2 separate regions of the Homo sapiens genome follow, and region 2 is linked to region 1. A link means that fine-mapping ties the variant in region 1 to the expression of a gene that starts in the linked region. Tissue or cell type: prefrontal cortex. Region 1 holds a variant in brackets; the other region holds the start of a gene. All regions are shown on one strand. Distances are from middle to middle.

Region 1 (2,923 bases):
TAATTTACCTGAGCAAAATGCAAAGATAAATAATTATACAAAAATTTAAGTCAGTTGTCAAAGCTAACAATGCATCACCTGGCTTCAAAATTTAACAAACAAAGAGTCTACATAAATATCTTTCTTGTCTACACATCTTTCTTGTTATGGTAAACATTTTGTTTTTTCTAACAAAACACTGCTCTTCATTTTAAAATCTAAATGGCAAAATGAGAATGATAACAGCGAATTAACAGGTTTGAATGTGGTTTATAAAATTAGGAATGGGCAAACATGGATTAACTGACTCGAAAATACTCTGGAATAGGGGTCACAAATTTGGTCCACAAGCCAAATCCAGCCAGCTCATAAGAACAGTTTCACATTTTCTAATGGCTGAAAAAATCTAATGGCTAACACAGTAGTATTTTGTAACACATCAAAATTATGTAAAATTCAACTTTCAGTGCTCATGAAATTTTATTGGAACATGGCCACACTCATTCGTTTAGGTACTGTCTATGATTGCTTTCACATTAGAATGGCAGAGTTGAACAAATGCAAAGGAGACTTATGTGGTGCTGTCATCATTTTGCACTGCTACTTGGCACACTAAAAACTGCAGTAATGCAGTTACCAGCATTTTGAGTGCCACATATGTTGTCATACCACAATATTTTTAAATTTTTTATTACTAGTGCTTACCCATAACATCAAAACAAGAGAAAAAAAGAAAAGTAGACTTGAAGTGACATTTTTAAGGCACATTAGTATATGAATTTTTAAAAATCAGATTAGATGTCAGAGTATGATGTTTAATATGCAATGTCATTATAGCTGTTCTTAAAGAATACTATAGGGAGGTCAGATGCAGTGGTTCATGCCTGTAATCCAAGCATTTTGGGAGGCTGAAGTGGGTGGATCACTTGAGGTCAGGAGTTCAAGACCAGCCTGGACAACATGGTAAAACCCCATTTCTACTAAAAACATAAAAATTAGTTAGGTGTGGTGGCATGTGCCTGTAATCTCAGCTACTTGGGAGGCTGAGGCAGGAGACTCGCTTGAACCTGCAGGGTGGAGGTTGCAGTGAACTGAGATTGTGCCACTGCACTCCAGCCTGGGCAAAAGAATGAGACTCAGTCTCAAAAAAAAAAAAAAACAAACTCAAAAATGAAAATAAAGTTGCAGCCAAAGTGACTCAGATGTTAACCAAGCAAGGAAAACATTTTACTAACGATAACTAAATTGTGTTTGATTCTATCGGCTGAAGGACTGTGTCCAAAGTAAACTTAAGACTATTAAATTAGCCTTTTGGCAAGAATGGTTGCTTAAAGAATTGAGAACACTGGGAACAACATCAACAGTCAATAAAAAACAAGGCAAATGACCCTGAGTGGTTTTCCTTGGCTCTTGATGAGTCAACAGA[T/A]GTTACTGACACTGCCTAGTTATTGCTTATTTGATAAGTCAATGCCAACGTTGAAGTGACTGAAATTAGTCTCTATGAATTATCTGTGTGGCACAATTACAAGCATGAATATTTTATAAGAAGAAAACACAAATTTCATGCAACCTGAAGTAGAATCTGCTAAGATGTGTTACAACTGGTGGTGTTAAAAATGTGTGAAGCAAAATGATTACGTTTGTCAAATTTATAAAGCCTGTGAAAAGGTAAGAAGGTATTTAAAATCTATGGTTATTTACTGTATTATTCATCAGCAGGTACTTTGTGGGATATATTTGATTCAATTTTGTATTACTGAACTACTGGTAGCAATGGTGAACTTCATTTGCTCTCATAGTTTCTGATAGATTAAACATCAATGGTTCAGTTATCTTTTGTCAGATACAGAAGATGAATATGCTGATTTGCCCAACCACATTGGCATAATAGTGTTAGTTCTATTGTGAGCTTTTGCGTTCAGGGCTGATATTGACATTTTTCTGAAAAAGAAGACATGTCCTCAATCACTATTATGGAACACTGAATGGCTTTGGAATTTAGCTTTTGCTCAAGACTTAATAAAATTTTGAAATGAATTCAAGCCAAAATTACAAGGCAAAACGTGTTTACAAGCAAAACATAAGTCATTTTGATGACAACATTGTTTGAATTACAAGTAACAACAAGCTGCTTTACACATTTCCTGTGCTATCAAAAGGTAAGACAAAGAAGCGAGATCTCCACTCTCACACAAATTTGTAGCTCACACCATAGTGCCTGCAGTATTTTTTGGAGTTTGCAAATGTAAAGGAAATTTCCATTTTTCAAAATCAATTTAACAGTGCAATTGAGGAGCTTCTGCCTAGTCTTCAATTGGAAGTGATTAAGCTGCAATGTAATAACATGCTAAAAGGAAAATATCCAGAGAAGAAGTAACCTTTCAAGTGATGAATATGCTCAACAAAAATCATATTCTCATGGATTAATGTAAGTATTTGACAATACCTATCTGCAAGGAATTTTCAGAAGTAAAATACATAAAATCTTATTACAGATCAGCATTAACAAATGAGTACTTACAATCAACTTTAATGACACGAAACATTAACTTTGATCCTCCCTGTAAATATTTAATTCTTTTCATTAGTAAACCCGTATTACAAAAAAAATTGTTCTAAATTATTGTTTTGAATTTTGTCAATAAAATTTTCGTGCAAATTTTATTTCTCTCTAGTTATTTAAGTATCTACATAACAATCTCAGTTTTACCTCTTAGCCCACAAAGCCTAAAATATTTACTATCTGGCCCTTTATAGAAAAAGTTTCCTGACCTCTGCCCTAGAGCCAGAAGCTACCCTGAACACCTAAAAGCACAGGTTTAATGCAATGCTTCAGAAGCCAGATGGCCTGGGTTTATATGTTGGCTCTGCCACTAGCAGCTGTATGATCATAAATAAATTCTTCAATCTTTCTTTGCCTCAGTTTCCTCATCTGTAAATGGGG
Region 2 (2,923 bases), 77 kb after region 1:
AAGGGGCAGTTTTTGTTAACTGACCATATGTGCAAGTACCATATGTACCATTGTACAGAGTACTATAATCGCATTATTTCATCACGGCGTGAGTAAAGAAATTATCCATCTTACAATGAGTTGACTTATCTGATTTTCAAATAACAGAAGGGAAGAGTTTGAAAATGCAGAGTTCAGAAAAGCCAACTTTTGGCGCAGAAGTTTAAAACAAAGTTAGTACTCAGAACATAAGTATGGAAAGAAGAATCCAATTCAAGGAACTTTTAGAGTGCCTACTAAAGCATAATGCACATTTCCCTCAAGTCCTTAATCTGATAAAGGACTATTGGAGCGCTGATGACTCTGGATGAATCTCTCTCTACTCAACCAACAGATACAATATGCGGTACAGGATAATGGAGGCAGGAAGTGAGCCTGAAAGAAAAAAATATATACCTATAGCTGAACTTAAGAAACCAAGGAGTGCACGCAAGAACCAGAAAAGGCAGCTTGTGTCTGTGAACAGACCAAAGCAAGCAGAGATCCCTGCACCTGGTGGTAATGTGCCCTCCGGAGCACAAAGCCAGACGGGCATCCTGCCAACGCAACTACCTGACCACAGGCTTATACCATCTTCACCTTCTATAATAGTTATTTGTATACTGTATTTCAATCTGTGAATGCATCTCGAAGGTTTGTGGCAATGATTACTGGGAAATCAAGGAAATCCAAAACCACCCGTTATAAATATGTCGACAAGGAGGCCAAGTAGATGGTCATCATCACACTCTAGGGGCACCCCTAAACCTAAACACAGAAACAAGGTTGTAGCTGGGCACCCTGTAGCAGTCCTGAAGAAAGAAAACAGGCCTGGTTAGGCAAAAACCATCGGATGTCAGAGGGAAATCAAGGCAGCAGGCACAGGAATCACAAGCACAGGCGGGCATGTGGCCGACGCGTGGCTGCCGGCGCAGCACTGAGCGCGGGTGTGGGGCGACCCGCAGTCCCCCGCGGTGTAAACAACCCTGAGCCGCGCACACGTCCGAACGACGCCTCACAGCCTGCAGGCAGACTGTAGCGTAGAAAGAGCCCGAGGCACGTCAGCAGTTCTCAAGGGCCCCAGCAAGCCCCGCAAGCGTGAAGCGGAGGCGCGGGGGCGCGGGGCCGCGGGCGGGGAGGGGCGGGCAGCGGGGGCCTCTGCCAGGCGTCCAGACTCCCCAAAGCGCGGAGCTGCGCGCTGGCTCGGCCCCGGCCCCGCCCCGGCGCCAAAGGAAGAAGACAGAGACCCACGGGAGGGAGAAGTAAAGGAAGGGCCGTACCCTGCAGGGTCCGGGAGAGGCGCGCGCCGCGGGCTTCACCAGCGACCAGGCAGCGCGAGAAGGCCTGGGTGCGGGGGCGGCTCCCCGACTCTCTAGATGCGGCACAACCGCCGCAAGCCCGGCCTAGCGCGACCCGGAAGGAAGACGCGGAGGCCGCGAGGAGCGGCGGGCCCGGGGAGGCGGGGCGGAGCCGGGGAGGAGGGGCGGGGCCGCGGGGTTGGGGCGGGGCCGGGGAGGCGGGGCGGGGCCTGGAGGGAGGCGGGGCGGGGCCAGAAGCAAAGCCGGGCGTTTCTCCCATGGGAGGTGCTCTGGGTCCTACGGACAGCCCGCTCCCAGGCCAGGGGGAGGAGCTTTCTGCTGGCTTCCTAGCTCCAGTGGTGCCCGTGTAAAGGGCCTAGGTCATACACAGCGGGTAGTGTCTACAAATCCTCTTCGGAATAATCCCTTCCGAGTACCGGCTCGCCATGTGTAGTGTGGTCCTACAAGGACTTCTTCAGTCCAGACTTGGTGGATCAGATGATACATAGGTAATACGGCTGGTACGCATACGTAGAGGAAAAGTATAATATACATTATATGCACTCTGAAGGTATAATTCACCTAGTTTACAAACCTCCTCTTCCCTGCATACAAATCCTGCCTGCAGGCTCATTTCCATACCAACGTTCAGAAGCCTCTGACCATTACCTCTGATGAAGAAGATGGTCTGGCAGCCTCTCTTACTCATTTTGATTTATTTTTGGTAGATTCAGTATGGCACTTTATTTATTTATTTATGTATTTTTTGAGACGGAGTCTCGCTCTGTCGCCAGGCTGGAGTGCAGTGGCGCGATCTCGGCTCACTGCAACCTCCACCTCCCAGGTTCAAGCGATTCTCCTGCCTCAGCCTCCCGAGTAGCTGGGACTACAAGGGCGCCAAGCTAATATTTTGTATTTTTAGTAGAGACGGGGTTTCACCATATTGGCTAGGATGGTCTTGATCTCCTGACCTTGTGATCCACCTGCCTCAGCCTCCTAAAGTGCTGGGATTACAGCCGTGAGCCACCGCGCCCGCCCTTGGCACTTTTTTTAGTTTGCATCATATTTATCTTGTTACAAAATATCCACTAAGATGGAAAATATTTAATAAAATGTTGAACTACACATTATTTGCTGTCTGAATGCTCCAATGAGGCAAACCAGTAAGGATATTTACTTATATATGAACAGAATCAATATATGATATGCAATATACATTGTATACAAAAAAATTAAAATTTTTATTTTCTTCAACTTTTTGATGCATAATAGCTGTACATATTTTCAGGGTATATGTGATAATTTGATTCATTTCTGTAATCAAATCAGCATAACTGGGTTACTCATCCCCTTAAATATTTATCTTTTCTTTGTGCTAGGAACATTCAAATTGTTCTCTTCTGGCTATTTTGACATGTACTATTGATAAATGTTAGCTGTAGTCACCCTACTGATCTATGGAACACCGGGTCTTATTTCTTCTAAGTGTATGTTTCTTCTAAGTGTATGTTTACCTCCCCTTGCTCCCCCATGGCCCACCCCCCCAATACTTCTCAGTCTCTGAGATCCACTTTCTGAACTCCCACATATGAGTGAGAACATGCATT

Evidence for each region. PIP is the estimated chance that this variant, and not a neighbour inherited with it, causes the effect.
Region 2: it holds the start of FBXL4, and the variant in region 1 is fine-mapped to the expression of FBXL4 in prefrontal cortex (CommonMind, PIP 0.95).

The regions. Positions count from the first base shown.
Region 1 is chr6:98,869,959-98,872,881 of GRCh38, forward strand. It overlaps FBXL4 (F-box and leucine rich repeat protein 4), which reads right to left. Exons shown (of 10, transcript NM_001278716.2): 10 at 1-2,923. Among named protein-coding and RNA genes, the nearest start is that of POU3F2, 37 kb to the left of the region's middle. The variant T/A (reference allele first, on the strand shown) is at 1,406.
Region 2 is chr6:98,946,508-98,949,430 of GRCh38, forward strand. It overlaps FBXL4 (F-box and leucine rich repeat protein 4), which reads right to left and starts at 1,439. Exons shown (of 10, transcript NM_001278716.2): 1 at 1,299-1,439. RefSeq lists enhancers at 329-518, 1,322-1,833 and silencers at 959-1,268, 1,566-1,860.